Homo sapiens: one gene and its partners. The protein of the gene in region 1 interacts with the protein of each later gene in a biochemical or structural test. Each region holds a gene or a part of one and is shown in the gene's direction. Other genes may lie near its edges.

Region 1 (10,409 bases):
AAAATCCTTGGGTGTTTCATTCTGTCTTGGTATCAGCTTCTTAGAGAACTCGGACTAAACTTCAAAAATGTTTAAATATAGTATATTTTTGGGTTAACTGTAGAAGTAGCATGATACAATTGACTGATTCTGATTTGATTTGATTTGATTTTTTGAGACAGTGTCTCGTTTTGTCACCCAGGCTGAGGTTAGGGGCACCATTACGGTTCACCAGCCTCGACCTCCCAGGCTCAAATGATCCTTCCACCCCAGCCTCCCAAATAGTAGCTGGGACCACAGGCATGTGCCACCACACCTGGCTAATTTTTTAAATTTTTTGTAGGGACAGAGTATCACTTTGTTGCCCAGGCCTATCTCAAATTCCTGGGCTCAAGCAGTCTTCTGGCCTCAGCCTCCCAAAGTGTTGAGATTATAGGTGTGAGCCACCGCACCCGGCCTGATTCGTTTTTAAAAATAAATATTTAACTCTTTTGGAACTTTTTCTAAATAACTCGATTACAAAAATTACTTGCTGATACTGAGAGAGAACTAATAATTTTTGCCTTCAGATGTATTTGACTAATCTTGAAGAAATTGAGTCAAAATTTTTAGCATGAGAATGAACCTTAATCTAAGTTTTGGTATGTGAAGAAGAATGAAAACATAATCAAATGCCTTGTTAGTAGACTACATTCTGTCTCTGATTTAACCTTCGATATAACTAAGGTCAAATAACAAACTAAGTTACAAGGAAGAGAAGAAAATTAACATTTATTTAGGACTTGTATATGGGGAGGGTAAGGAGTTGGAATGTTAGAGTAAGGACTGTAAGGCTGGTGTACTTCAAAACAACACCACTAAGCCAAGCTTCAAAACACCCTGTGGGATGTTCTTTAGCTTGAATAAATAGAAGTAGACAATACATTTATATAAAAAATCCCAATACCAGAAGTCCTGGAGACTTAGGTCCAAAATCCCCTTGCTCAGTCATTGACCTCTCTAGTCATTTGTTTTTCACATTGCAGGAAGTTACGGAAACAGTCTGCAAGACCATCATTTCTGACAGCAGTTTCAAGTTTGGATGTCCTAAGACCACCCTTGCGTTTGATTATTTGCTAAGACTCACAGAACTCACTGAAAGCTGTTAGGCTCACAGATACATAGGTTTTCAGAGGTTATATGTAGCTAGTAACGGTGGAGCTGAGATTTGAACTCAGGACTTCCTAACTCCAGAGCTGATGGTATTTTTGTGTTTTATTTATTATTTAAAACTGCAAATTAAAAATGAAATGACAAGTGCCTTTTCTGCTTGACATTTAAATTATTGGTGGCTTTCAGTAGAGTGTTGGAAGCTACTACCAAAGCCATATTACGGAGAATGGAGGAATGATTGGGAAGAAGAGAAAAGGGGCTGGGCACGGTGGCTCATGTCTGTAATCCCAGCAGTTTGGGAGGATCTCGAGCCTCAGAGTTCAAGATCAGACTGGGCAATATAGTGAGAAACCCCCCATCTCTAAAATAAAAAACAGAAGGAAAAATGAAGACAGTTCAGCATTAGACTGGTATTCTGAAAGTCTTGTCAAGGGAAAAGGGAAATGCAGGGATAGCTAGAAAGATGAAAGGGTGGGTTTGATATTTATAAAGATGAGACCTTTTTTGAACATGACTAGTCTTTTTACATATGTTATCTCAATTAGTTCTTTGCATTGAAGTAGATATCATGTTTTACTGATGAAAAATTGAGGCTCAGAGAGGTTATGTTATACTGGTAGTAAAATGGGAATAAGAGTACCTACCATAGGCAACTGTTGTGAGGATTAAATGGGGACAGTCTTTGTCAGAGTAAGAAATCAACTTTGGAGACTTTCTCTTTGAGGAAGCCCTATGCCTTCATAACAGTGCTTGGCCAGAGTAAGTACTCCATAGATGCTAGCTATTGTTAGATATTTTAAATTCTCACTTCATAAAAATTGATCCCCTGAAGTTTAGGACAAGGTACATCAATAATTTCTATTGTGTTTCTTTCTTTTTTAGAGATGGGAGTCTCACTATGTTGCCCAGGCAAGTCTCGAACTCCTAGTCTCAAGTGAGCCTCCCACCTTGGCCTCCCAAAGTGTTGGGATTATAGGCATGAGCCACTGGTGTCTGGCAAATTCTGTTCCTTAATGTTTCAAAACTGCTTTTTTTCCACTCAGTCATTTAATTGTCACATTGAAAATAAAGTTTAGGTGCATACTTATTCCTACCCAATTGAAGTAATAATTCCTTATTGATATTTTTACCTACAGACTTTAGGTATTATGTATTCTGTTTTTGCTTTGTTTTATACATTGTTTTGTTTTACGTTTTTGTGTTTTTTTTTTAATCCAGAATTAAACAACCACCATGTCGAGCAAAAAGGCAAAGACCAAGACCACCAAGAAGCGCCCTCAGCGTGCAACATCCAATGTGTTTGCCATGTTTGACCAGTCACAGATTCAGGAGTTCAAAGAGGCCTTCAACATGATTGATCAGAACAGAGATGGCTTCATCGACAAGGAAGATTTGCATGATATGCTTGCTTCTCTAGGTAGACTTTATATTCTTTATTTGTATTTTCCCTAAAATAATAATTTGTCTCTTTATGAATCTTTTTTTTGTGCGATGTACAAATATTTCTCTCCTTGTCTCAAAAGGCCTCTGGAGAGATTTCTGGGTGTGGGAGGTGCTATTTTGGGGCTTGGCCAGTCATATGGAGATAAGCCTACAAGGTTGGGGACCTGGCAGATGCTGTGCCCGGGTAGGCTAATGTTCCTGTTAGCTAAATTTTTTAGGTCTCTAGATGGAAAGCCAGGGCATGGCTAGGCAGCAAAATACCAGAGTTTCAAACAAGTGTAGCTAAATAATATACTTAATAAAGGTTGAGTACAGGTTATAAACAAGGAGTGACAGTAAGTGATGATGGTTATCTCTGGGAAGGAGGGGCAGTGCGACTGGAAAAGGGAACACAGTGAAGAAGACTTTCACAATATTTTGTATGATTTTTTTAATAACTAAAATGTAAAGATACAGGATTTAAAGCACACATAAACAGCCATTTGTATGTTGGTATATGGGTGTTAATATTCCTTGTATGATTTTGTTATTGTTTCTTAACATGCATCCTACATGTTCTGGCCAGAGTCAGCAGTTAATTTACAGTTGGGAGTCAAGGAACTGCAGGCAAAGGAGACCTTGATAGGCCAAAGCGGAGGGGGTGAGGCAGGCTGGGAGTGGGTCAGGGATGGCCTACAGTGAGACTTTGCGCTCTGTCCTCCTGCTTGGCTGACTGGCCAAAAAGGCAAAGAAAGAGGTGGGGGTTTTTTTTTTCTCTCTTTTAATGCCTACAAAATGATCAGCTAGCTTTTATTCTTCTAACTTTTGATTTTGATTATTTCTCCTAACACATTGAAAGTAAAGTTTAGGTGTGTACTTATTCCTATCCAACATATGATTTTGAAAACTTTTAAGCCTACAAAAAGTGGAAAGAACATTATAGTGAACACCTATACATCTTTAGCTATATTCACTGATTGTTAACATTTTGTAACTTTTCTTTATCTAGGGTGAGAGTAGAATCAAAGATTTTTATCTGATTTGTTGACTTGTAGTTAGATTATAACCTAGTGTTTCTCACATTCAGAATGTCTGAGTATGTTCTTGGGCAAGTCAGTACTGAAGAAGGCCTCTGAGGAAAATTGAGGAATGTAGCCATCTTCCAAAGATTGAACTCTCAAGTCTATACTCTGCTTATAATAGATGCTCAATAGATATTTGTTGAACGAACAAGTCATGGTAGAGTCAGAGGTTGTCTTTGAGACCTTCTGTTTTGCAGAAACCCATCCTTTTAAAGATACGTGTTAAAAGAACAATTTCAGCCTAATTAAATTTAATGGAGTTTAATTGAGCAATGAACAATTTGCGAATCAGGTAACCCCAGAATCACAGCAGATTCACAGAGACTCCAGTGCAGCCACGTGGTAGAAGAAGATTTATAGACAAAAAAAGGGAAATGACGTACAGGAATTGGAAGTGAGGTATGGAATGGCTTGATTGATTACAGCTCGGCATATGCCTTATTTGAACATGGTTTGAACACTCAGCAGTGTATGAATGGTTGAAGTATGGCTGCTGAGATTGGCCAAGGCTTAGCAGTTGTTACAGGCTCATACTCCTAAGTTAGGTTTTCAGTCTTGTCTGACTATTAAGCTAGGTTATAATTCATTCACAAGGACTCAACTGTAGAAGTACGGAGTCTTTCTCAGGCCATATTTAGTTTGCTTTAACATATGTATTTACCTTTTAGGGGAACCTTCATACATTATTGGTAGGAATGTAAATAAGTACAGCCACTGTGAAGGACATTATGGAGGTTCCTCAGAGAACTAAAAATAGGAGCTCTCCCATATGATCCAGCAATCCCACTGCTAGGTATATACCCCCAAAAAAGGAAATCAGTAGTATCATTGAAGAGGTATCTGCACTCCCATGTTTATTCCAGCACTATTCACAGCAGCCATGATTTGAAAACACCGTAAGTGTCCGTCACCAGATGAACGGATTTTAAAAATGTGGTACTTATGTACAATGGAATACTGTTCGACCATAAAAAATGAGATCCTGTCATTGCAGCAACATGGATGGAATGGAAGACATTATGTTAAGTGAAATAAGCCAGGCACAGAAAGACAAACTTCACATGTTCTCACACACTTGTGGGAGCTAAAAGTTAAAATAATTGAACTCATGGAGATGGAAAGTAGAAGGATGGTTATCAGAGACTGGGAAGGGCAGGGAGAAGAGTGGGAACTGTTAATAGATACAAAAGTATAGATAGAATGAATAAGATCTAGTATTGGATAGAATAACAAGGTGACTGCAGTCAGCAGTAATTTGTTGTACATTTTAAAATAACTCAGTATAGTTGGAATGTTGGTAACACAAAGAAATGATAAATGCTTGAAGGGATGGCTATGCCATTTACCTTGATGTGATTATTTTGCATTATATGCCTGTATCAAAGTATCTCATGTACCCCATAAATATATACACCTCTTGTGTACCCAAAGCAATTTAAATAAATATGAATTTTTAAAAGATACGTATTTACCTTTCAAATCAACAGATTACATTGGATGTCTTGAGCGGGTCCATAAGTGCTTAGCCTAAACCAATTCATTTTAAATCCCTGTAACTTTTTGTACCCTAGCGTTCTCTTCACACCTTTTGGTTACAGTTTTTCTTCCCCCCAAAAAATGCTGCAAGTGAGTTGGGTTAAATCTGGAGGTAGAAAAGTAGATCTTTTTAGCTACTTTAACTTATTCAGTGAATCTTGAGTTTAATTTTGGGCTAATTTTGATATTGGAACATTGAGTAAGTGTAATCAGGTAGGACTGCAATGCAGTGAAATAGATGCCAACATGATGTTTACATTTCACCCAAATTCCCAGAATTAAAACTTACATATGAACTATAATGGTAGCTTTGATTGTCATTCTAGCTTTGACTTAGTTGGGTATAATTTTGAGATGGTTCCTTAGATATGAATATCTGACTAATAGATGTTCTTTTCATGTAAAATCATATAAACTTAATGTTGGAAGATACCTTTGAGATACCAACTTTAACCAGTCAATGTTAGACTTTTTTAAAAAAAGAAGTAAATTCTACATAAGGCAGCACTGAACGAAGGATCTGGAATACTGGGTTTGAATGCCAGTTCTGCCACTTCCTCCTATATCACACAACCAGTGGTAGAACTGGGATTCAAACCCAGTATTCCAGATCCTTGGTTCAGTGCTGCTTTTCCCACACCACGGGGCCTCAAAAACACTCCCACCATGTCTGGCCATTCCAGGGAGATTTCTTTCAGCTCCTAGGGAAAGGTCAGGGGAGTTCCCTCACCACTGCACTAAAAGAAGTGTTCACACTTGGAATGGAGATTAAGATTTCCCATTACAAACAATACCAAAGAAGACCACAGTTCAATGACATGTGTAAACAGTGTTTGAAGATATCTAACATTGTTCAAAATAAGCTGCCAATTCAAAACCATGCTAATAGTTTAAACTTAAATGGCCAACTTATAAATACAACTTTGAAGCATATCAACTTATGGGCATCTGTACCACAACTGGAAGTGTGAATATTTAGATTTTTTTGTATGACTGGTATTGAACTGACTCCCCGATGGACCATTGATGTTATCAACATTCAGGATGTAGGCCGGGCGCGGTGATGCACGCCTGCAATCCCATCACTTTGGGAGGCCAAGGCAGGTGGATCACTTGAGCTCAGGAGTTCAAGACCAGCCTGGGCAACATAGTGAAACCCAGTCTTTACAAAAAACAAAAAATTAGCAGGGCATGGTGGCACATGCCTATAGTCCAAAAAAAAAAAAAAAAAAAAATTAAGATGTAATAATGTGGCACTGCCTGGCTTCAGGTTTTTGTTTTGTTTTTAATGAAAAATAATGAACAGAAAGTTCACATAAACGAATAAATAACCTTCAATATAAGCCTGGAATACATTTTTATAATGATGTATCCAATATTTTTTAAGTTGTCAAAAATAATCTTTTTAAAATGTTCTTAAAGTTAATTGAAAAATTAGTTTCAAATGATGTACATTTTAAAAATATGTTGGGGAGCATAATAATAGTGAAATAACTATTGAAATTAAATGTTTTTGTCTTTAAATGTTAAAATGTGTATTCTTACAGGGAAGAATCCCACTGATGCATACCTTGATGCCATGATGAATGAGGCCCCAGGGCCCATCAATTTCACCATGTTCCTGACCATGTTTGGTGAGAAGTTAAATGGCACAGATCCTGAAGATGTCATCAGAAACGCCTTTGCTTGCTTTGATGAAGAAGCAACAGGTGAGTGCTATTTGTTTATGCCCAGCCTCATTCCACACTATATAAAGTACTTCTGTGAAATAGAAGGGGTTTTCTTTTTTTACCTTTAGAAAATATTTGCTTAAGAATAATTTTGTAAGCATATGATCTGTTTCTGAGCTTTTAAATGATTTGATCTAATATTAACACAGAACTCTAAGAATAATTGGAAAACATAATGATATAGTTCATATAGCCTTAGTTCACTAACTTACTTTGTTTATAGATATGGATATTCTGAAATATTTTATACGATTGACAAGCTTTAGGAATGAACCATCAAAGTGCCAGGAAGTATTGATGACTGCTTTCTTCTTTCTATTGTCTTCCAGGCACCATTCAGGAAGATTACCTAAGAGAGCTGCTGACAACCATGGGGGATCGGTTTACAGATGAGGAAGTGGATGAGCTGTACAGAGAAGCACCTATTGACAAAAAGGGGAATTTCAATTACATCGAGTTCACACGCATCCTGAAACATGGAGCCAAAGACAAAGATGACTGAAAGAACTTTAGCTAAAATCTTCCAGTTACATTGTCTTACTCTCTTTTACTTCTCAGACACTTCCCCCACCCTCATAGAACCTGTTGCATGCAACTTAGTTTCACAGCTTTGCCTCTTCTTTTTGATGTATTTATTCCAGACCTTTCTGCCACTTAGCACTTGTATAATCAGACTGGAAATGGGGATGAGGGTGTAAATTGTATTGAAAAAGATCGCGAATAAAAATCAACAAATGTGAAAGCCCAGAAAAATATATTCGTATTTCTGGTTTTGCTGGATTTTTACATTTTTATATAATAAAAATGTTATTTTGAAATAAAGATTATGCTGACTCAAATGCAATGTAATGGCAAGTTAAACAAATGATTGATAGGTGGGGGTAGTCCTTTTTTCAGGTTTTCAACTTCATATGATTCAGGTTTTATGGTAAAATTGATTTTTCACATATATGGGACAGTGTTCTTCAGAACTTTTAAGTACCCTTTAACATTATTATGCAGTAAAAACTAGTTATGCCATTGTTTTTCACGCTTCTAGTCAGATGTTTATTAAATGATAAATATAGAATGTATCTGGGAAAACATTAAACATTGCGTTCATCTAAGATTCTGAGAAGAGGCAAAATTCCGAAGATTAGTTATTGTACATTTACTATATGTGGAGCGTTGTGCCTACACAATTTTTCTTGAATCTTCCCAACAACCTTGTGGGATTTTTATTAGCCCTGTATTTCAAGTGGGAGGACCTAGCATACTTGAGCAGTTGATTAGGGTAACTATTAGGACATGAGTTGGAATTCCAACCTAGGGCACCTAACTTCAGAGCTCACAGTGCTGGAACCACGATACTGTCTCTGAAAAGCCCCAAATGTCTAAAAGAGTCAAGACATTTCTGTTCTATTATGATACAATTCTGTGGTCATTATTGAAATTTAAAATAATCTTGGGGTAATTGATGATTGGAACAGAATTTCAGAAAATTCTATTCCAGGTTAAAATAAACAATACTATTGTGTGTTTGAAGGCACTTCATGTAATATATAGACTAGAAAAGAGCCGAAAGACAAGGTTGCTGTGAGCTCAGAATCCTCAAGGCCAAGCAATACGAGAATAAAGAGAACAATCTAAAAAAGGAAAAAATCCGTTTTAAAAAATTACCCAACGTTGTTCAATACCGATTTCCCCTCTTAAAAGTATTGTGATGGTATTTTGTCTGCTTAACACCAAAGCATTTATATGTTGTTTAATATTGGTGCTTTACAACTTGGGGCAGTAGGCTGGTCTGTATTCACTTGCTAACAATTTGCCTGGGCTTCCTTTTATCATTAGAATGAGGGAGCAGCTCATATGAACTGTCACATTTATCACCCAATCCTCTTAGTCTCTGAGGTATCAGTTCTACTTTTTATTAATAGACCTGAAGTTTAGACTGAAGCTCCTGCCCAAGATCTAACAAATATAAGAATCTACATCTGGCTCTTTTTTCCACTTAGAAGCTTAAACTCACCACAATGTGTCACAAAACCAGGTGGAGAATTGTGTGTTTCACAGGAAACAGAAAAATACGGTGGGATAATCTTGATGATTATTGAACCATTGTCAACCACCTGTTATGTACCCTACACTGTTGTAAGGGTTGGGGATAACTGGGGGGTGGGACAGACAAGGATGCTGCCCTCGTGGGACTGCATTCTCTGCTGGCAGACAATCCATGTGCAATTTCAGGTTAAGTGCTGTGCAGAGAACTGGGCATGCATGACAGGGTGGTCAGGAAAGGCCTCTGGGTGGTAAGCTGAGATCTGAATGACAGGAAGGAGGTCCGGACCCATGTGAGGATCAGGGCGAGGCTGTCGTGTGGTAGGAGCATCGGGAGAGCACATGGATGATACGGGTCCAGGGAGGGTATTTGGAGCAGAGTCCTAATGTGAAATGCAGGGAAGAAAGGTGATTTATATTTTTAAAATCAGTGTTGGTGCTGTGTCTTGAATGGAGGGGCACGAAGAGAAGCAAGAAGGCCGGTATGGAGGCTGTTGCCGTCGTCCAGGCAAGAGGGGGCAGCATGGACTCAGGTCCAGGGGAGATAGCTATAAAACGCCTCTCCGGGTCCTATCTGTTTCCTCCCCTCCAGCTCAGCCTTGTTTCCATCTCTGGCATAATCGTAACTGTGCTTATTTTATTGATCTGCTTAAAGCCAGATTTGAAAAATTGAGAGAAAAGTTTTGAAGATTAAAAACAAAAAAACTTAGTTGTTTCTCGACTGCCTTACGTTTACCTGACACACTGTTCTGTTTCATCTGTATTATTTGTGAAGAGTGTTGTGGAATCCAGTAGTGGAAGACACCTGGGCCAAGACTTTGTTTCTTTTTGGTGTCCAGTAAATATTATTAATGATGACGATGAAAACTTTGTCTACTTAATATCTCCTTTTGAGAACCACATAGTGACAATCTCCTAAGTTGATGGTTGATTCTGTGGCCACTGCAGTGAGTGTGTGTGTGTGGTCACATAGTGAAAATGCACTGAGTATTCACTATGTACGAAGCACGTTACACAACTGCCCTTTGAGGTAGGTCTTTTTGGGTTTTTTTTGTTTTTTTTTTTTGAGACAGAGTCACTCAGGCTGAAGTACAGTGGCACAGTCTTGGCTCACTGCAACCTCCACTTGCAGGTTCAATCAAGCGATTCTCGTGCCTCGGCCTCCCAAGTAGTTGGAATTACAGGTGTGCACCACCACACCTGGCTAATTTTCGTATTTTTAGTAGAGATGGGGTTTCACTATGTTGGCCAAGCTGGACTCAAACTCCTGGCCTCAAGTGATCCGCCCGCCTCAGCCTCCCAAAGTGCTGGGATTACAGGCATGAGCCACCGCGGCCGGCCTGAGGTAGGTATTGTTATCCCTGTTCTACAAATGAAATGTCAGGGGGCAAGGAAGTAACTTCCCAAAGTTACACAGGGAATAAGCAGTGGGGCAGTCACCTGAGCGCAGGCAGTTGTGCTCCTCCCAAGA
Region 2 (10,580 bases), on another chromosome or scaffold:
TGTAACAGAGTATTTCTCTAAATATTTAGTATCGACTGAAAACATAGATGGGGGCCTGTGCTTAGGAAGAGCTCTCTGTATATTGATGATCTGGTGAGTAAATAAGGAAAGCTCTTCAAACATCACATTTCATGGATATGTTTAAGATTAAAGTTTAAGAGTGTGTGGGTGAAATATTTGGTTTAACTGGAATTAAATAACTTTACTGTGGTTTTCAGCAAGATGAGTGGTATTTGGAGTTTTCCTTTGGGACTGGAAGAAAAAAGCAAAAAAATAAATTTTAATTTGATTTGCATAGTGTGGCCTGATCGTTTAAGTGTTGTTAGAAAGAGAGATGACTAAAATTAGTTGAGATTATTATATTATGGATTAAGTATATTGACCTTATTTTCATTATGATTTTTTGGTACCATTATGTGTTATGAGAAAGAAATAGAAAAAGAGGCCTCCCTGTGGTTGGCGAAGGGAGTTTTTGATCTTTATTTCGTGGGCGTGATGATGAGGGGAGGGAGGTGGCTTACTTATTTGTCACTAGCACTTTGATTTGCTCAGTGTACATTTTTGTGTATAACGTTCTCCCCACTGTGCAAGGCAAATTGACAAATTGTTTATTAAATAATTTGTGTGACCTAGGAATTTTAAAGAAATGCTCTGAAAAACTGGAAGTCTGAAGTTTTTAAAAATGAAATGTACAGACTCATCTATCTTGTATAACTGCTATTGTTTTTGCCAAAAAATGAGTGAATGATTGTTTTTTGGAAAATTTTTCAAGTCCTGATTTTATGTCTGCCTTGGATGTAGCCACTTCCTGAAAACAAGTCCTAATGTAAAATGGACATGTAGGAAGATGCTGCTTATATGACATCACGTGTCACTGAGGGAAGATTGGGAGTGGAGGCAGGAGTTTGGTGGCAGGAAAATGGAAATGGGCAGATATGTGGCACAAATGCAAGGTCATTCTAAGCAGTGAATTACTAGTAGACCAGTATCTAAGATTTAAGACTTTACTTGGCCAGGCGAGGTGGCTCACACCTGTAATCCCAGCACTTTTGGGAGGCTGAGGTAGGCAAATCACGAGGTCAGGAGTTCAAGACCAGCCTGGCTAACATAGTGAAACCCTGTCTCTACTAAAAATACAAAAAAAATTATCTAAGATTTAAGACTTTAATTGGCCAGGCGCAGTGGCGCGCGCCTGTAGTCCCAGCTATTTGGGAGGCTGAGGCATGAGAATCGCCTGAACCTGGGAGGCGGAGGTTGCAGTGAATGGAGATCGCGCCACTGCCCTCCAGCCTGGGTGATACAGCGAGACTCTGTCTCAAAAAAAAAAGAAAGAAAAAAAAGACTTTACTTATATATCTTTAGCAGTCATCTAAATAATAACGATTCACTTACCTTATAAATGTAGTGAGACAAAGTACATAGCCAGGAGGAAAGATGGGTTTTTGAAGAAGTAGAGTACAAGTATTATTGTTAATGTTATTTTACTTTTAGGAAAATTGAAAATGTTCGTATTTGTGTGTACTGCCTAAGACTTCTGTAAAAGCTCTCTGTCAACGGTCAGGAACTTTATAGAGTATTGCAACTATTGCAGCAGTCCATCTGCAGCAGTAATAGAGCAGATGGGCCACTGGACAGATACCCTGGTCCAAAACCTGGCTCTGCAACTTGCCAGTTTTCTTGAACAGGCCATTTACCCACTCTGACACTCAGGATTTTCCTCTATGAGAGGTTTAGTGCTTTTTTCATTGCTGTTGTAAAAATAATCTAACTTGTAAAAGTAGTTGATCAGCAGTAGAGAGTTAAACAAATATAGATATTATCTGTAGACTGGCTGAGACATCTGGGTGCCCCAGGCAAGCTAATAACTTGGCCGGCAAGTCAATATTCTTTAAGTTTCTGTTTACCAGCTTTGGGAGGGGATGCCTTATAGGAAAAGGGTCATGGGGAGAAGGGTTGCTGACAGCATTCAGCCTCCACTATGATTCTGAATAATGCAGCCCTGGCCTTGAGCTGGCACACCCTCCAAGCAGAAGCAAGTCCCTGCAGCAGATGCACTTGTTATCTTTAGAAGGGTGCTTGGTGGCCTTCAGTTTTGGCTCCTGGAGGCCCTTTAGGGTCTCACCCTCTGTCCCAGGAGGCGGAACAAAGAACTGCCTCCATGATGTGTAATAGTCTCTGGGAGGAGTTCTTATAAATCTGCTATTATACCGAGGTGTTTTAATGCCCCAGGATGCCCTAGCATCTCTTATCAGTTGGCACCTCGGGCAGCTGCAGGCTGACTTGCCCCATTGTCGGGCTCTAGTTACACCCTTGGCCGTCGTTCAGCCTAACCTGTGAGCCTCCTGGGCACCTCTCTGTGTACACTGCTTTCCTGAGGGACTGGCCTTCTTTCCTATTGCACCATCTGACCTTATATGATCTTAAGACCTAAGTCCTACTTCCTTAATGAATCCTTCCACAATGAGTTTCCCCTTTTAAAGTCAAGTGACTTCTCTGAGACTCTCTTTGTCCATGACCATAGACTGCCCAGTGACATGTTTATCCTGTTTCATGTTTATTAGTCTTGTATTACTCTTTGCAGCCAGCTTGTGAGTTTCTTTGGGGTGTGCCCTGTGGTTTGGAGTTGTTGTGGTCCTTTCTCCCCATGGTGTGCAGGGTTTCATAGACTTCCTGCAAATTGGTATCTATGATCAATATTGGGATTAATGCATGCCTCAATGAGCTAATGCAGTTTGGCAAGTGTAATTTTGAGACCAGAATGGGGATGTAAGATGCAAACGATGATGCTGATGCTGATACTGTTAGAGAGGCAGTGTGCAGTGTGGAAAAACCTGAGAATGCTCATTTGGAAAGTGGGGAGACACCTACCCTGGTAGAGTGTTGTTAGAATTACAGACGTGGCTTTAAACATCTGACATGCAGTCTGTCTTTCTAGTCTACAGGTAGATATGCATTTACTGAACACCTACTAAGTGTGATGTGTCTAAAATATATATATATGTATATGTTTTTTATATATATGTGTGTGTGTATATGTATATATATATATATTTTAGAGACAGGGTCTTACTCTGTTTCCCAGGCTGGAGTGCAGTGGCACAGTCATAGCTCACTGTAACCTTGAACTCCTGGGCTCAAGCAGTCCTCCCACCTTGGCCTTCCAAAGCTCTGAGATTATAGGGCAGAGACACTGTGCCTGGCCTCTAATATATCATTTTTATTATTTTTAATAACCTGTTTTCTCCATCACAGCATTTACCACATTGCATAGTAACTGCTTATTTGATGATCTGCTTTCTCCATGGGGCCATTACCTTGGACTTGCTCCTCACTTTTTATTTCTAATGCCCAGGTTGATGCATGGCACTTAGAAGGCGCTCAGTAAATGCATGCTGTTAGACTAGACTGAGTGGATCAATATATGTAAAGCAACTTGAAAGAATATGTATGTATTAGGGCCTCAACAAATGATGGCTTGTGGTGAAGATGAACACTTAGGATATAATGGCTGCCGCTCATCAAAATAAAAACTGCTCTTGTTTTTGCATTCTTTGTGGCTGAACAGTAATGAGCACAGCAGCCAAAATTTTCAAGCACAAGATCAGTTTTAAACAAAACAAATGAAGTGGAGCATTAAATATTTTACATTGGTTTGGATGGTCATTGGAAGCTAATAATTCAAGTTTAAAACATTCCCCTTTCGGCATAAAATCCATAGGCATTTTAATTGAAGTAAGAAATTGTCATAAGCCCTGGCAGTCCAAGTGCTTCTCTAGACCGGTTTACTGTGGATTGCAGGAGTCAGTCCTATGAATAATGGCAACCCTGTGTGGCTCATAGAAGGGGAGAGACTTTCTGGCATGTTTTTTCTTCAGAAATGGGAACCGCAGGCCACCGGTGGGTTTCTGCATCCTTATAGGACTGTGCTGAATGTGACATTTTTCCTCTTAGCATTTTTGACTCAGAATGCTCTCAGATGTTTCCTCTGATAGGAAAGGGTCCAAAGTTTTAAGAGAGATAAAGTTCAGCTACATAGATTAAAGGCAACGGTTAGTGATTTTAAAAGTGTGTACATTTTAGGAAGGTCTAATAATAATTTTCCAGGATGTGAAGGGAAAGCATGATGGTGTTAGTAAGTGGCAGTTTGGTTGAATGCTTGCTTGCTGGCACTGGGAGTGTGTTGCTGGATTACTAGGGCAGGCATCAAATTTAGGTTCAAGGGGGCCAGGAACAGAGTAGGTGGAGGTGCTTATTGGTCGGGAAGCCAGGGAACATGGAAGCTCACTTCTTGGTCCCCCATGCTCTTTTACCCTCAGCTTGTGTCTCCCCGGCCAATGAGGAAACTGAAGGCCCCATATCATTGGTATATGCCTCTGCAAAGCCATGAAAAACTCATAAGAAACCTACAGAGATGGATGTCCAGATAAATTCCAGTGCACTCATCCCTCGGTATCCATGGCGGATTAGTTCCAGGACCTCTGGGGACACCAGAATCCACAAATGCTGAAGTCCCTTATATAAAATGGCATAGTATTTGCATATAACTGATGTAATCTTCCCATATATCTTAAATCATCTCTAGATTACTTACAATACTTAGTACAATGTAAATGCTAACTAAATAGTAGCATTATAATGTTTAGGGAATAATAACCAGAAAAAAAAGTCTGTATATGTTCAGTACAGATGCAGTTTTTTCCTGAATATTTTTGGTACAAGGTTGGTTGAATCCATGGATGCAGAACCCACAGATCCAGAGGGCTGACTGTAGTTGTATACAGGTGTTATATCAGGAGAGGCAACATTGGCTCTTCCACCTTGTTCTCTTCCCTCCTAGCAGAGTTGTAATCCAGACCACTTCTTTCCAGATGATTAGGGGTGAGGGGCTGAGCTGCTGGATATCTGATATCTGGGAGTGGCATGGTCAAGGTCACATTGCCTGACTCAGCAGGGAAATGTGTTAGGAACTTTCATCCTTCATTCTAGCCAACTGCCATGAGTACCTAACATTTTGTATAAATTAAGTGAATATTATTTTAGTAGAAATTTATTTCTGATTATGAGACAAAGGAAGCCACTCTTCTGACAAGAGGGGAGTGGTTTCCATTGGGGAAGAGTACCCCAGAGAGCTCAGGGACTTTGTTTGTTTGTGTCTTTTTGTTTGTTTGATTTTGTTTTGTTTTTTTGAGACGGAGTCTCACTCTGTTGCCCAGGCTAGAGTGTAGTGGCGTGATCTCGGCTCACTGCAACCTCCGCCCTCTGGGTTCAAGTGATTCTCCTGCCTCAGCCTCCCAAGTAGCTGGGATTACAGGCGCCTGCCACCGTGCCTGGCTTATTTTTTGTATTTTTAGTAGAGACGGGGTTTCACCATCTTGGCCAGGCTGGTCTTGAACTCCTGACCTCGTGAGTCACCCTCCTCGGCCTCCCGAAGTGCTGGGATTACAGGCATGAATCACTGTGCCTGGCCTTTTGCATTTTTGGAGACGAAGTCTTGCTCTGTTGCCCAGGCTAGAGTGCAGTGGGGCGATCTTGGCTCACTGCAACCTCTGCCTCCCCAGTTCAAGTGATTCTCTGTCTCAGCCTCCAAATAGCTGGAATTATAGGCATGCATCACCATACCTGGCTAATTTTTTTATTTTTAGTAGAGGTGGGGTTTCGCCATGTTGGCTAGGCTGGTCTTGAACTCCTGACCTCAAGTGATCCGCCCGTCTCGGCCTCCCAAAGTGCTGGGATTATAAGCGTCAGCCTCTCGCTGTGCCTGGCCGGGACTTTGACCTGGAAGAAGGCTGAGTGACCAGCATTGCCTCCCTTCACATTTTATCCACCTGTGTTTAGACAGGTCAAGTGGCTTTCTCCAGGCAGCTGATTAAAAGGTGGCAAGACATGGACCCAGAACCCAGGGCCAGGCCTATTTCATTATCTGTGCTATTTAGGATTTGGCAGTTTTCCATCTTTGAAAGCCAGATGAAGTTGATATTTAAGAGAGGTGAAGTAGGCAGCCATTTGGCGCCAATTTATTTCAGCATCTGCATGGAGAAAATGGTTAGGGATAAATAGTAGACCCTTCATGGAAGGTTTTCATTTGAAGCCCAGCCAAAGGCAACAGGGTCTGCCCTTTGAGCTCAGAACTTTCGCAGGCCTTAACGACACACTGGGACCTTCTTTCCTTTTCCAAATGGCTTCAGCCTTGCAGTTTGGAATGATGTCAACATGTGGCGTAGTTTTATTCAAGTCCCAAGTTAATGGTTTACCTTTTTAGAAAACTCCAAAAACACTTTCATTGTTATTTAACTTTTGAGTTATGTAATGTCTAAGAGTCTTGTCTCTGACCCGTGCACCTACCTGCCACTGACCAACAGTTTCTCATTTCCTTACGCAACAACTAGTCTGGCTAGCTTAGAGTTGGTGTGTGATTGTTTGAGACTTTATGTGGAAGATAATATTTAATTGTTTTGTTCTGGTTTGTTGGGGTAAATTATACAAATGGAATGCATCCTTTCTCGGCCTTGAAAGAGGTTATATGACAGTACAATTATAATAAATTCAGTGTATGACTTTGGGTACATTCTATTATAAACGAATTTTTTTAAAGGTGCAGTTAGAAGAAGGTGGAAGAAAAAAGAAGTTGACACTCCGATTTTCCACATCATCTAACTAAAATGGATTTAAACTAACTTTCTCTAACTATTAAATCTTTCTTAGGTAAGTACAGTTGTATCCCAGCTCTAGAGTTAATGTGCTGGGTGGGTTTTTACAAATAAAAAATCTAAAACCTAAAATAGTTGTGTTTTATCTTCTGTCCCAATCCAAAACAAAACAAAACAATCATGTGATAGTAACTAATCTCTGGAGATACCTGACAAGCGTGGTCCAATAGTGACGCGGGTTTGTCACTTTGGTCTTTAGGTGACATTGACAGCTGGTGTGGCATATGGATCACACTGTGGTCATTGAAGTATAATGTTGCTTACTTCTGAGAAGTGATCATGGGGCCTTTTTTTTGAGACGGAATTTCGCTCTTGTTGCCCTGGCTGGAATGCAATGGCGCTATCTCGGCTCACTGCAACCTCCGCCTCCTGGGTTCAAGCGATTCTCCTGCCTCAGCCTCCCAAGTAGCTGGGATTACAGGCATGCACCACCACGCCTGGCTAATTTTGTATTTTTAGAGGATTTCTCCATGTTAGTCTGGCTGGTCTTGAACTCCTGACCTCAGGTGATCTGCTCGCCTCAGCCTCCCAAAGTGTTGGGATTACAGGCATGAGCCACCGCATCTGGTGTTCACGGGGCTTTTACCTTATGTACTACCTTTCGATGTTTCAGTTGTGAGCTTGAAAAATTTTATTCAGTAACCTAACATATAATTAGAGATGCCAGAGTGGTGGGGAGGGGAGGGAAGGAGGTTGGGAGAATGTTGTTGATTTTTTTTTTCCCTTTATAAACACATACAACTTTGGACGAAGAACATAATGTTTGAGCAAATGAATGCTTGTAAACTGCCGATCTCTGAAGTGTGAAAAGTTTATATTGATGGCACTTATATTCATAAGCCTGATGGGTTTTGGCTGGGAAATTTGGCTCGAGGTACGGACTTCTTTTGGGACACATTTTATTTTTCTGTCAAAACTGCCTGATTATTCTTATTTAGGAAATATGTGATGAATGAGGCTGGCTGGCAAATATTTTAAGTGCAGTTGATATTATAAATTTTCACCTACAAAAATGAACTACTTTTCATTGTTGAATAGTTATGTCTTAGTTCATTGCTTTTACTTTTGAAACTGTATAAACTTTTCCCTTTTTTTGGAGACGGAGTGTCGCTCTGTCACCCAGACTAGAGTGCAGTGGCATGCTCTTGGCTCGCTGCAACCTCTGCCTCCTGAGTCAAGTGATTCTCCTGCCTCAGCCTCCTGAGTAGCTGGGACTACAGGCACCCGCCACGACGCCCGGCTAATTTTTGTGTTTTTAGTAGAGACGGGGTTTCACCATGATGGCCAGGCTGATCTGGAACTCCTGACCTCAGGTGATCTGCCCTCCTCGGTCTCCCAAAGTACTGGGATTACAGGTGTGAGTCGCCGCACTGGTCCAACTTTTCCTTTTCACCTTAGAAAGATTGTCAGGATTTTTTTTTTTTTTTAAACGGAGTCTTGCTTTGTCGCCCAGGCTGGAGTGCAGTGGCGCGATTTCGGCTCACTGCAACCTCCACCTCCCGGGTTCACGCCATTCTCCTGCCTCAGCCTCCCGAGTAGCTGGGACTACAGGTGCCCGCCACCACACCTGGCTAATTTTTGGTATTTTTAGTAGAGTCAGGGTTTCACCGTGTTAGCCAGGATGGTCTCTATCTCCTGACCTCGTGATCCGCCCACCTCGGCCTCCCAAAGTGCTGGGATTACAGGCGTGAGCCACCGTGCCCGGCCACGATTGTCAGGATTTTTGAGACCTTACTACAACCCCTGACACCTGACCCACAGTATAGAATTTTCCAGGTGAAAAAGACATGTAGAGAAAGTCATCAATGCCATTCTTTTTTTTCCCCATTCATGAAAATGATTAGATTTTCCTTTGAGCTGCCTGTCTGTCTGCCTAGCACCTCATATGTCTATCCAGGACTGGGCTGCCTCAGAGAGGATAGGTACACCTAAAGCAATGCAAGAAAAAAAGTGGCGGAAGGATACCATGGGACAGGCAGAGAGAAGAGGTCAGAATTTAGTGTTGATTCAGTTCCGATATTTCCACCCTCCTTTGAGAAGTTTTTCGAAATTGTTTTGCCTCCTCTGTGTAAAGCTCAATTTTTGAGGCCATCTGTGGTTTATGGGTAAGCAGCAGAAATGTGTGTCTCTGGGAAAGTGATGAAAGGCTGCAACCTTTGGAGTGTAATATTTAATAGACTAGGAATTACAAGCTGTTTGGCTTTATAAAAACAAAGCTACAGGCGCTGCAGGTATACGTATCCTGTAGAGAACAGACTTTTAATGGGTGCTGCTCATGTTGGAGATGCTGAATGGTATATAATACACAGAAGAGCTGTCCTTAGGAATTTGGTAAGGCAAAAAGCGCTAAAAAGTTATTTATTACCTTAAAATAATATTTCATTGGCCTATAAATCAGTATAATTGAAAGCACAGCCTGCCAGCATTTTCTTTTCTTTTTTTTTGAAATGGAGTTTTCCTCTTGTTGCTCAGGCTGGAGTGCAATGGCGCAATCTCAGCTCACCACAACCTCTGCCTCCGGGTTCAAGCGATTCTCCTGCCTCAGCCCCCCGAGTAGCTGGGATTACAGGCATGCACCACCACGCCCCGCTAATTTTATATTTTTAGTAGAGATGGGGTTTCTCCATGTTGGTCAGGCTGGTCTTGAACTCCTGACCTTAGGTGATCCGCCCGCCTCGGCCCCCCACAATGCTGGGATTACAGGCGTGAGCCACCGCGCCCGGCCATCCTGCCAGCGTTTTCTTCTGTGCACTTGGGATGGGAATATAGAAAATTGTCTTCCTAGATATTGGCTTTGCCATTCAAAGTCTCTACAGTCAGTGTGTGAACTGCTGGGAGTGATGCCAGAATCTTTCACAGATTTCATTCCTGGGAGCTCTTCTGGCGTCAGATGATCGCGGTTTCTTTTCCTTCTGCACCACAGCACATGGAGGAGGCCTCTTTCTCACTTGCTCCGTTCCTTTGCCATTCATGGAGGCAGTGGCACCAGTGAGCTCACGGCCAGGCCGCTTTTGCCCTTTTTCTGACTAAGTCACTATAGATGGACTAAACAGAATATATTTACAGTTCGCCCATTTAGAATCGATAAGGGTGTGCCCCAGGCTCCATCGTATATTCCATTACATACAGCCTCAGGCATCCGTTTCAATTGTTTGGGAGAGGAAGTGAATTAGCACAAGTGGAATATCTACAGGATGAAACGTTGTCAGTCTGTGCGTTCCTCCCCACCCCTTCGTTGGCTGGAAGAGATAACGCTTGACACGTATGGAGCAGACAGGGTAATGTCAGCCTCGTGGCCATGGAGAAGCAGGAAGTCCCTTGGTTTTGTTCAGTGTGATTTGGGCATTGAATGAGTAGATCCTGTTTTAAGAATATTACTCATTAATATGAACCATCATTTTGTAGGTCTTTTAGAAGCAACATTCTCTTTAGTGCAGATAATGCTTATCTGCATTGAGAGAAGTTATAATAACCTGGAGAATGAGAAGGAAATACACATGCGAAATGGCCCAGCCGGTTTCTCCTGGCAACCTCTCCAGAGCATGTCCTAGGCTACTCCTCCAGGAAGGCTCCTGCTCTGATTTCCTGTATTCCTTCACGATTTGGAGTAGATAACTGGCCACTTGGCATTCTTATTACAGGGGACTTATGCGTGGGATTATTGGCTTCCCCTGTGGACTGTGAGTTTTCTGAGGGTAGAGAACATGGCCTTTTGTCTCTGGTGTTGGTTGGAATTCAGCTAAGTGCACGGTAAGCCATGTTTATTTCGTTGCCTTATAAAGGTACATATGCAGAAATTAGAACAGTGTTTCAGGGCTTTGGACCCAAATCCCTGTCTCCACAAAACACATTAGCTGTTACTTTGGGAAAGTC
Region 3 (11,218 bases), on another chromosome or scaffold:
GACCTGCAGGACTTGGCAGGTGGAGGGCAAGCAGCCGAGGTGTGTCCGGCCCTTGACGGTGGCTCTCCCCCTCCCCCAGGGCGCACTGTGTGAGGAGAACATGCGGGGTGTGCGCTTCGACGTCCACGACGTCACCCTGCACGCCGACGCCATCCACCGCGGAGGGGGCCAGATCATCCCCACAGCACGGCGCTGCCTCTATGCCAGTGTGCTGACCGCCCAGCCACGCCTCATGGAGCCCATCTACCTTGTGGAGATCCAGGTGAGGTCTACCCGCCCACCGCTGACCCTGCCACCGTCCTGCCCAGCGGCCACTGACAGGTTTTCTTTCCCTTCTGGCAGTGTCCAGAGCAGGTGGTCGGTGGCATCTACGGGGTTTTGAACAGGAAGCGGGGCCACGTGTTCGAGGAGTCCCAGGTGGCCGGCACCCCCATGTTTGTGGTCAAGGCCTATCTGCCCGTCAACGAGTCCTTTGGTGAGTGCCTGCCCGGTGTGGCCTGCAGAGCCTGGCAGGCTGGTTTGGGGGACAGAAGCCCAGTTAAGCTTAGCAAGGTGTTAAAGGAGGCGTCCTGATGGGAGCAGGTGATGGATGGAGCAGGTGGTCCAGTTTCTGACAGCTTGTGGACCCCCTAAATCACTGAATTCCCAGGGGAGGGGCTCTCCTATCCCCAGTGTGAGAAGGGCTCTGGGCCTGGAGCTCTGAAGGCCTACGCCCTGGGCCGGTAGAGCAGCCGAGCTGTAGCACAGGGTTGTCCCAAACGAGCAGCGGCATGAGGCCCATGAGTGGCCTGCTAGGCCCTTCGTGAAGTGCTGGGCACCAGGCCGAGTGTCTGGTCTGCAGGGTGACTCAGGCTGAGGAACTAGCCTGAGCTCCTGACAGGACTTTCCTTCTGCCCTGCCACCTTCTCGATGGCCCAGTGAGCCTCTCGCTTCCCTCTGCAGGCTTCACCGCTGACCTGAGGTCCAACACGGGCGGCCAGGCGTTCCCCCAGTGTGTGTTTGACCACTGGCAGATCCTGCCCGGAGACCCCTTCGACAACAGCAGCCGCCCCAGCCAGGTGGTGGCGGAGACCCGCAAGCGCAAGGGCCTGAAAGAAGGCATCCCTGCCCTGGACAACTTCCTGGACAAATTGTAGGCGGCCCTTCCTGCAGCGCCTGCCGCCCCGGGGACTCGCAGCACCCACAGCACCACGTCCTCGAATTCTCAGACGACACCTGGAGACTGTCCCGACACAGCGACGCTCCCCTGAGAGGTTTCTGGGGCCCGCTGCGTGCCATCACTCAACCATAACACTTGATGCCGTTTCTTTCAATATTTATTTCCAGAGTCCGGAGGCAGCAGACACGCCCTCTTAGTAGGGACTTAATGGGCCGGTCGGGGAGGGGGAGGCGGGATGGGACACCCAACACTTTTTCCATTTCTTCAGAGGGAAACTCAGATGTCCAAACTAATTTTAACAAACGCATTAAGAGGTTTATTTGGGTACATGGCCCGCAGTGGCTTTTGCCCCAGAAAGGGGAAAGGAACACGCGGGTAGATGATTTCTAGCAGGCAGGAAGTCCTGTGCGGTGTCACCATGAGCACCTCCAGCTGTACTAGTGCCATTGGAATAATAAATTTGATAAGGTGGTGACTCTGTTCTGCATTTTTCACGGTGTCTTCGCAGGGGAGCGGGGCTGCCCAGTACTGGGCTCCCTGGAGCCTAGAAGGGGACCCGGGCCCTAGTTAGGTGCAGCCTGGGGCTGCCTCAGTGTTAGGTGGAACGTTCTGGAATGGTGGGAATGCCCTACCCCTGTGTCATTCAGAGAAGCAGCTGCCAGCTGCGCGGGTCTGCTGAGCATTTGAAGTAGGATCAGTGCGGCAAGGAATTACGAGATGTCACTTTGAACGCATTTGGATGGCCCTGTGGAGCGAGGGGCTCTGGATTGAACTTCGCAGGTTTCAGCAACTTTCCGAATTGCTGACGAGCTCACAAGTTCTATCTGCCATCAGGATTTTCTGTGGTCACCCCAGTCCTGACTAGTTTATTAGAAACCCATTTTTTTTTTTTTTTTTTTTGAGATGGAGTCTCACCGTTTGCTAGGCTGGAGTGGAATGGCACCATCTCTGCTCACTGCAACCTCCACCTCCCGGGTTCAAGCAATTCTGCCTCGGGCTCCTGGGTAGCTGGGATTACATGCGTGTGCTACCACGCCCAGCCAATTTTTATATTTTTAGTAGAGATGAGGTTTCACCATGTTGGCCTGGATGATCTTGATCACTCGACCTTGTGATCCACCCGCCTTGGCCTCCCAAAGCGTTGGGATTGTACCACTGTGCCCGGCCTTGTAAACACTTTTTTAGAGGCAGAGTCTTGCTGTCTCCCAGATGAGTATAGTGGTGCAGTCAGCTCACTGCATCCTCCACCTCCTGGACTCTCCTGCCTCAGCCTGCCAGGTAGCTGGGACTCCAGGCATGTGCCACCATGCCCAGCTAATTTTTATTTATTTTGAGACAGAATTTTGCTTGGCCTGGTTGGTCTCGAACTCCTGACCTCAAGTGATCTGCCCGCCTCGGCCTCCCAAAGTGCTGGGAATTATAGGCGTGAGCCACTGTGCTGACCTAATTTTTACTTTTTTTGTAGTAATGGGGTCTCACTATGTTGCTCAGGCTGGTCTCCTTCCCGGGCTCAAGCGATCCTTCTGCCTCAGCCTCCCAAAGTGCTGGGATTTCAGGTGTGAGCGCCAATAGCTTAGAAAACTATTTGTTTTTCTAAATAGTGCCTAAGATGTGAGGAGGCCTAATCTTGTCAGTGCTGATAAGGTTAACATGATCATTTTCCGCCTTTTACTCTGTCCTCAGGAAGGCAGGTGGGGACTGTGAAGTAGGGCTGTGGGGTTCTCGGCAAAGGCGGGGGCAGCTCTGGCCCTGCATTGTCAAGGCCAAGCCTCAGCTGAGGTTTTGCCCACATGTAGGTATGCCTGAGGTTTGGTTTGGCTGTCGCATTTGAATTGGGGCTGTAACTGACGCTGTTTCCAGCAGTCAGGGTAACGGATTACTGTGTTTCGAGAATCTCACTCTATCGCCCAGGATGGAGTGCAGTGTTGTGATCTTGGCTCACTATAGCCTCTGCCTCCGGATTCAAGTGCTCAAGCAATTCTTGTGCTTCAGCCTCCCGAGTAGCTGGAATTACAGGCGCCTATCACCAGGTCTGTGTAATTTTTGTATATTTAGGTGAGATGGGGTTTCACCATGTTGGCCAGGCTGGTCTCAAGCTCGACCGTAAGAGATCAGCCCGCCTCAGCCTCCCAAAGTGCTGGGGTTACAGGTGTGAGCCACCATACCGGGTCCTATTCTTTTTTAGTAGTGCAAACGTTAAGATGGTATGTGGAAGCTGAATTTTTTTTTTTTTTTGAGACAGTCTTTGCTCTGTCACCCAGGCTGGAGTGCAGTGGCTCAATCTTGGCTCACTGCAAGCTCCGCCTCCCGGGTTCACGCCATTCTCCTGCCTCAGCCTCCCGAGTAGCCGGGACTACAGGCGCCCGCCACCATGCCCGGCTAATTTTTTGTATTTATTAGTAGAGACAGGGTTTCACCGTGTTAGCCAGGATAGTCTCGATCTCCTGACCTCGTGATCCACCCGCCTCGGCCTCCCAAAGTGCTGGGAATTATAGGCGTGAGCCACTGTGCTGACCTAATTTTTACTTTTTTTGTAGTAATGGGGTCTCACTATGTTGCTCAGGCTGGTCTCCTTCCCGGGCTCAAGCGATCCTTCTGCCTCAGCCTCCCAAAGTGCTGGGATTTCAGGTGTGAGCGCCAATAGCTTAGAAAACTATTTGTTTTTCTAAATAGTGCCTAAGATGTGAGGAGGCCTAATCTTGTCAGTGCTGATAAGGTTAACATGATCATTTTCCGCCTTTTACTCTGTCCTCAGGAAGGCAGGTGGGGACTGTGAAGTAGGGCTGTGGGGTTCTCGGCAAAGGCGGGGGCAGCTCTGGCCCTGCATTGTCAAGGCCAAGCCTCAGCTGAGGTTTTGCCCACATGTAGGTATGCCTGAGGTTTGGTTTGGCTGTCGCATTTGAATTGGGGCTGTAACTGACGCTGTTTCCAGCAGTCAGGGTAACGGATTACTGTGTTTCGAGAATCTCACTCTATCGCCCAGGATGGAGTGCAGTGTTGTGATCTTGGCTCACTATAGCCTCTGCCTCCGGATTCAAGTGCTCAAGCAATTCTTGTGCTTCAGCCTCCCGAGTAGCTGGAATTACAGGCGCCTATCACCAGGTCTGTGTAATTTTTGTATATTTAGGTGAGATGGGGTTTCACCATGTTGGCCAGGCTGGTCTCAAGCTCGACCGTAAGAGATCAGCCCGCCTCAGCCTCCCAAAGTGCTGGGGTTACAGGTGTGAGCCACCATACCGGGTCCTATTCTTTTTTAGTAGTGCAAACGTTAAGATGGTATGTGGAAGCTGAATTTTTTTTTTTTTTTGAGACAGTCTTTGCTCTGTCACCCAGGCTGGAGTGCAGTGGCTCAATCTTGGCTCACTGCAAGCTCCGCCTCCCGGGTTCACGCCATTCTCCTGCCTCAGCCTCCCGAGTAGCCGGGACTACAGGCACCCGCCACCATGCCCGGCTAATTTTTTGTATTTATTAGTAGAGACAGGGTTTCACCGTGTTAGCCAGGATGGTCTTGATGTCCTGACTTCGTGATCTGCCCACCGTGGCCTCCCAAAATGCTGGAATTACAGGCGTTAGCCACCATGCCCTGCCACTTTTTTTTCTTTGAGATGGAGTCTCCCTCCGTCACCCAGGCTGTAGTATAGTGGCATGATCTCGGCTCGCTGCAACCTCCACCTCCTGGGTTCAAGCAATTCTCCTGCGCTAGCCTCCCGAGTAGCTGGGATTACAGGCATGTGCCACCAGGCCTGGCTAACTTTTGTATTTTTAGTAGAGACAGGGTTTCACCATGTTGAGCAGGCTGGTCTTGAACTCCTACTTCAAGTGACCTGCCCGCCTTGGCTGCCCAAGCTGTTGGGATTACGGGCGTGAGCCACCACACCTGGCCAACCCATTGTACGTTGAAAATGTAAATAAAAAATATAAAGGCCGGCTTGTGGCTCACGTCTGTAATCGCAGCACTTTGAGAGGCCGAGGCCGGCGGATCACAGATATTGAGACCATCCTGGCCAACATGGTGAAACCCTGCGTCTACTAAAAATACAAAAATCAGCTGGGAGTGGTGGCGTGCACCTGTAGTCCCAGCTACTCGGGAGGCTGAGGCAGGAGAATCGCTTGAACCCAGGAGGCAGAGATTGCAGTGAGCCCAGATCTCACCACTGCGTTCCAGCCTGGACGATAGAAGGAGACTGTCTCAAAAAAAAAAAAAAAAAAAAAAAAAGGCTGGGCAAGGTGGCTCATGCCTGTAATTCCTGCACTTTGGGAGGCCGAGGCGGGCGGATCAGGAGGTCAGGAGATCGAGACCATCCTGGCTAACACGGTGAAACCCTGTCTCTACTAATAAATACAAAAAATTAGCTGGGCGTGGTGACGGGCGCCTGTAGTCCCAGCTATTCGGGAGGCTGAGGCAGGAGAATGGCGTGAACCTGGGAGGTGGAGCTTGCAGTGAGCCGAGATTGTGCCAGTGTACTCCAGCCTGGGTGACAGAGCGAGACTCCGTCTCAAAATAATAATAAAAAATGAATTTAGGCCGGGCGCAATGGCTCACGCCTGTAATCTCAGCACTTTGGAAAGCTGAGGTGCCGGATCACCTGAGCTTAGGAGTTCGAGACCAGCCTGGGCAACATGGTGAAACCCCGTCTCTACTAAAAATACAAAAATTAGCCGGGCGTGGTGATGGGCACCTGTAATCCCAGCTACTTGGGAGGCTGAGGCACGAGAATCGTTTGAACCCGGGAGGTGGAGGTTGCAGTGAGCTGGATACCGCCGCTGCACTCCTGCCTGGGTGACAGAGTGAGACCCTGTCTCAAAAAATAAAATTAAAAAAAAAACAAACCTGATACCTCCCAGTGTTGTCAGTTGGCACATACTATGTCTCAATAAAATGCTTGCTGTTACCCTCTATTTTGAGACGAAGAGGGACCCTGTGTATGACAACCCCAGATTGACCTCATTTGCATTTTAAGTATTTAGAATGTGGGTAACAGTTTTCAGTGGAGGAAACTGCCACATAGGGACTAAAGCAGTCCCAGGGTCCACTCCAGGAGCTGCCAGGCGCGCTCGGCCACAGGTGAGCCATCCATTCGCCCAACCGGTGCTCCAGGAAGGCAGGAAGCGGGATGCAGGGCTTCAGCCTCACTTCTCGCAGCTTCAGCACCTGGGTCAGAGGAGAGGCGGGCGGGGCGATGAAGGGACCGGAAGTCGGCCTTTTTTCCGTCCGCTTGACCAGCGTCGACTGCAGCCAATGAAATCAGGGATGGCGAGTGTTCAGCCAGTGGTGAGGCTGCATCCGGGTGTGGGTGCCGAAAAGGCAGCTGGGGGCGGGACGTCGAGGTGCGGCACGAGCGGCGGGCGCACCGGCCAATAGGCGGCGGGGTTCGTTTCCCGGGGGTGGGCACTGGCGGGTGCGGTGACGTCGGCGCAGGCGCGTCGCGGCGGCAGGGGCGCGGGGCTTCTGGAGGCGGCGGCGGTGGCCAGCGCGGCGGCGCCGGCCGTATTCTCCGGGCTGCGGAGGGTAAAGAGCGGGCTCGGGCCGAGGCTGGAGGGCTGGGTGGGGCCAGAGCGGCGCTTCGGGGGCCCGCGGAGGACGAGGGAGGGAGAGAATCTGAGGAGCTGGTAGGTTTGGGGACCCATCTGGGTGACCGGGCCGGGGAAAGGGCTCGGCCGGGCGTGCGAGGGGCGTAGCGGCCCCAGGGATGCTGGAGCGGAGCCTTAGGGATGGGCAAGGCCTTGGGGGCGGGGGGAGGTTCTGCAAAGGGAGCCACTGGGGTCTGCCTAGGGGCTTGTGCGGAGATTGCGGGCGAGAAGGGGCAGAGGACGGTGGAGGAGACTCAGATGGGGCCCTTTTTGGCGGCCCGTTTTGGGGGGTAGGGGAGACGGCGGTTGGGGGACTTTGATACATGGAGCGTGGAGGAAGAGGTTAATCTTGCGAGGACAGTGGAGGTCAGCGGGGGAGGGAGGCAAAGTGGGCTTTCAGGAGCGTGGAAGGCGTCGTCCGGTTCTTGGAAAATTCAGAATTGGAGGGAGTCAGAGATGGTTGGGGGTGGGCGGGGGTGTTCCATCGATGAGGGTCTTAAGAGACCTGCCGAGGGCAAGGACCAGGAGGGGTTAAGGTAGTAACTTGGGAATTTTGATCGGAATGGCAGCACTTTGGGAGGCCTGGGACGATCGCTTGAGCCTTGGAGTTCCAGGCTGCAGTGAGCCATGATTGCACCACTGCACTCCAGCCAGGGCGACAGAGCGAGACTCCTTCTCAAAAAACAACAACACCAACAACAAAAGAAGTAGACTTGAGAACTTCGTTAAGACATTGGCCAGGGAGTAAGGTAGCCCTGGGATTTGAGGTTGAGGAGAACGTGCAGGAATGGTGGGGGATTTTGGCTGAGCAGGTTGAGAGAAGTCTAGGAGTGAGAGGCAAAAAAAGACGCAGGCAGCGTCGGGGAAATCAGAATTATGTGTCTGGAGAGAGTTTTGCGGGGTGAAGGTGGCCCAGTGGGGCTGTTACCAAACTTTTGAGTGGTTATGGGGCTCTAAGAGGTGACATGACAGGACCCAGCCCAGTAAACACAGCACCTCTTTTTGTCGAGTTTGGAGCTTCAGAGTGGAGAGGTGGGAGGCTTGTGTTTGCTGGACAGGTCTGTCCATTAATCTAGGAGAAAAGGGTGGTGTCTCAGTTCCTCACTTCTGTCTTTCCCTGTCTTCTCCAGGGTTGCCATTAGGGGACTCCTGAGGTCCTATCTCCAGGCTGCGGTGACTGCACTTTCCCTGGAGTGGAAGCTGCTGGAAGGCGGACCGGCCGCCATGTCCACGTTCAGGCAGGAGGACGTGGAGGACCATTATGAGATGGGGGAGGAGCTGGGCAGGTGAGCTGTCTGCCCGCACGGCTGGGCTCCAGGGATAGGAGAGAGGCGCTGTGGGGTTTTCTGAACAGCAGCTCTCCTTTCCTGTTCTTTATCCTGTATGCTGAGAAGGAATGAGTCAGTATCATGCGGTGGGGGAACGAATTTGGGCCGTGGAGTCAGACAGCCCCGGCTGTGAATTCCTGCTTGGGAATCCTCTGTGTGTTTCCTGTGGGGAGAAAAGTAATTGAGCCGTTACAGCAGCCAAGACCGTGCCTGGCATGGGGCACCAGAGCAACAGATGCCAGCTGCTTTTGTTATTAAAAGATGTGTCTTCTGCCTGGGCAACATAGCAAGACTCCATCCCTACAAAAAATAAAAATGAAAAAAAATTAACCAGGTGTGGTAGCTCATGCCTGTAGTCCCAGCTACTAGGGAAGCTGAGACGGGAGGATGGCTTGAGCCCAGGAGTTGGAGGAGGCTGCAGTGAGCTATGATCGTGCCACTGCACTGTAGCCTGGGCAACAGAGTGAAACCCCATTTATTTAAAAAAAAAAAAATCTCCCTGTGTTAATCCTCTTTTGTGGGAGGCACTTTAGTTTTTTTGCCCAGCTCTTGGATGTTTAAAGTGGGGGGAGGGAGGGGCGTGTCTCCCAGCTGGGCCCAAACCTCGGTCAATTGTTTAACATGCTTGTGGGAAAAAGCAGAGGTTTCCTCTTCCAGGGAGGCAGCTGATTTCCTGCCTGTCTGGGCCTTGGAGGGTCCCCCTGGGGCCCCACCCCCTCCAGACTAGCCAGGCACCACTAGGCCCTGCCTCCTTTTGTAGAGCCTCCAGCCTTATTTGGTGAGTTTGCTACTGGCCAGCCTCCCTGGAGCCTCCCCATGATGTCACCAGAAGGGAATGTAAATAAGTGAGCTCTGTGTCAGGCTAGGGAGAGTGCTGCAGGCTCTTTTGGGATCCTGAGGTCCCTCCTTCAGGAATTTCCTCGTTAGTGGCAGAGAAAGCATGCTCCCTCCTCCCCCTTCTCATGCTTCAGTGTTGACCCCTCCTGCTAGGGGTCGTTTGGCAAAAGTCAGCAAAATTCAGCCAAATTTCTTTTAACTCGCCGATTTCACCTCTAGGAATTAATTCATTGGAAAACTGTACATACATGGATGGAATGACTTAAGACTGGGGTAGTTGCTAGAACGTTTACCAGAATAACAGCCTTTTTTTTTTTTCCTTGACACTATCTCATTCTGTCGCCCAGGCTGGAGTGCAGTGATGCGATCTCGACTCATTGCAGCCTCGGCCTCCAGCCTAGCCTCCCGAGTAGCTGGGATTACAGGAGCCCGCCACCACCCCTGGCTAATTTTTGTATTTTTAGTAGAGACAGGATTTCACCATGTTGGCCAGGCTGGTCTCGAACTACTGACCTCAGGTGATTCACCTGCCTCGGCCTCCCAAAGTGCTGGGATCACAGGCGTGAGCCACCGCACCCCGCTGGGAACAGCAGCCTCTTAAATGGCCTTCCCCAAACCACTGCATCAGGGCTGGAATAGGATGCAGCTTGTAAAAAGAACCAGGCAGGGCCAGGTGCGGCGGCTTCCGCCTGTAATTCTAGCGCTTTGGGAGGCCAAGGCGGGAGGATCGCTTGAGCCCAGGACTTCAAGACTAGCCTGGGCAACATAAGTTGACCCCCATCTCTCAAACAAACAGAAATTCATAATTTTAAAAAAAGTATTTAGCCTTCTGTTTTTGCCGTGAAGCCTTGGAGGTCTGGTGTGTATTTCATGTCGCAGTTTTTCTCGGGACTGGCCACACCTCACGGGTTTGACAGCTCTGGGTGGCCAGTGTCTGCTGTTCTGACGGCACTGCTTCAGGTAGTGGTCTGGAACATTCTCAGAGATACATGAAGTGCAAGATGAAGGCCCAGAATGTAGCAATTTTTGTTTGTTTGTTTGAGACGGTGTCTGGCTCTGTTGCCGAGACTGGAGTGCAGTGGTGCCATCTTGGCTCACTGCAATCTTCGCCTCCCGGGTTCAAGTGATTCTCCTGCTTCAGCCTTCCAAGTAGCTGGAATTACAGGCGCCCACCAACGTGCTCAGCTAATTTTTGTATTTTTAGTAGAGACGGGGTTTTGCCATGTTGGCCAGGCTGGTCTTGAACTCCTGACCTCAAATGATCTGCCCGCCTCTGCCTCCCAAAGTGCTGGGATTACAGGTGTGAGCCACTGTGCCTGGCCCCAGCCCACACTTTTTTTTTGAGACGGAGTCTTGCAGTGTCGCCCGGGCTGGAGTGCAATGCCGCAATCTCAGCTCACTGCAACCTCCGTCTCCCAGGTTCAAGCGATTCTCCTTGCCTCAGCCTCCCGAGTAGCTGGGATTATAGATGCCTGCCAGCACGCCCGGCTAATGTTTTTGTATTTTTAGTAGAGACGTGGCTTTCACTATGTTGGTCAGGCTAGTCTTGAACTCCTGACATCGTGATCTGCACGCTTTTGCCTCCCAAAGTGCTGGGATTACAGGCGTGAGCCACTGTGCCCGGCTTCCCAGCCCGCATTTTTAAACATCATGAACTCTATCAGTAGAAATTGTCGGTGTGTAGGCCACGCTTGGGTCGTGTCTGGGTTGTGGCAGGCACTTAGGAAGTGGGTTGGGAGTGACACCTGAGACCATCACTGAGGAGGGCTTGCTGTGCCCCCACCTGCGCTGGGGGCTGGGGAAGTTACAGAGAAGCGAAGAGGGTGGGCTCAGCTCTTGGGGAGTTTCTTTCCCGGCTGGGGAGATGAGGCACGTTTCACATTCCGTAGAGGAACTGAGAGCCTGCCAGTGGCCTTGCCTCTAAGGAGCAAGTCTGTGGCCAGTGAGACCGGGGGCTGTCTGGAGGTGGGCGGCTGTGGTCTGCTGTTGCTGTAGGAGGACTCAGTGGCAGAACCTGAAATCTGGTTGGCAATAGCAAAACAGGGAAAGGCGTGGTTTACAGAACCAGGTTGTCCAGGTGTGCAGCGGCCGCAGGTGTGACTGGGTGCTGGTGCATATGGTGCCCTGTGTCCCCGGGGCCGAAGTCCACTCCAGCATGGAGGAGGCGCCCTGGCAGAGTGAATGACGGGGCTTATGTGCCACCCGCAGTGCCTGGTGGCTCCCCTCTCCTGGCCTGGTCTGTTCTTAGGCAGGCTTCTTAGGTAGCCTTCTACGTGGTGGCCCCTGCCGCGAGCCTGGATCCAAGCCCAGCAGAGGGAGAGAG

The links.
Region 2: of the proteins of MYL12B (region 1) and DAPK1, one has a biochemical effect on the other in vitro, tested with the Homo sapiens proteins (one study listed by BioGRID).
Region 3: of the proteins of MYL12B (region 1) and DAPK3, one has a biochemical effect on the other in vitro, tested with the Homo sapiens proteins (one study listed by IntAct).

Annotation. Positions count from the first base shown.
Region 1 is NC_000018.10:3,270,535-3,280,943, forward strand, and holds the end of MYL12B (myosin regulatory light chain 12B), read left to right. Parts: intron 1-2,349; 5' UTR 2,350-2,364; coding exon 2,365-2,548; intron 2,549-6,718; coding exon 6,719-6,880; intron 6,881-7,230; coding exon 7,231-7,403; 3' UTR 7,404-7,927; downstream 7,928-10,409. UniProt on the Homo sapiens protein: Myosin regulatory subunit that plays an important role in regulation of both smooth muscle and nonmuscle cell contractile activity via its phosphorylation. Phosphorylation triggers actin polymerization in vascular smooth muscle.
Region 2 is NC_000009.12:87,500,228-87,510,807, forward strand, and holds part of DAPK1 (death-associated protein kinase 1), read left to right. Parts: intron 1-10,580. UniProt on the Homo sapiens protein: Calcium/calmodulin-dependent serine/threonine kinase involved in multiple cellular signaling pathways that trigger cell survival, apoptosis, and autophagy.
Region 3 is NC_000019.10:3,966,472-3,977,689, reverse strand, and holds the start of DAPK3 (death-associated protein kinase 3), read left to right. Parts: upstream 1-6,590; 5' UTR 6,591-6,769; intron 6,770-7,860; 5' UTR 7,861-7,954; coding exon 7,955-8,016; intron 8,017-11,218. Other genes in the region: EEF2 (elongation factor 2), read left to right, coding at 80-262, 343-475, 943-1,136. UniProt on the Homo sapiens protein: Serine/threonine kinase which is involved in the regulation of apoptosis, autophagy, transcription, translation and actin cytoskeleton reorganization. Involved in the regulation of smooth muscle contraction.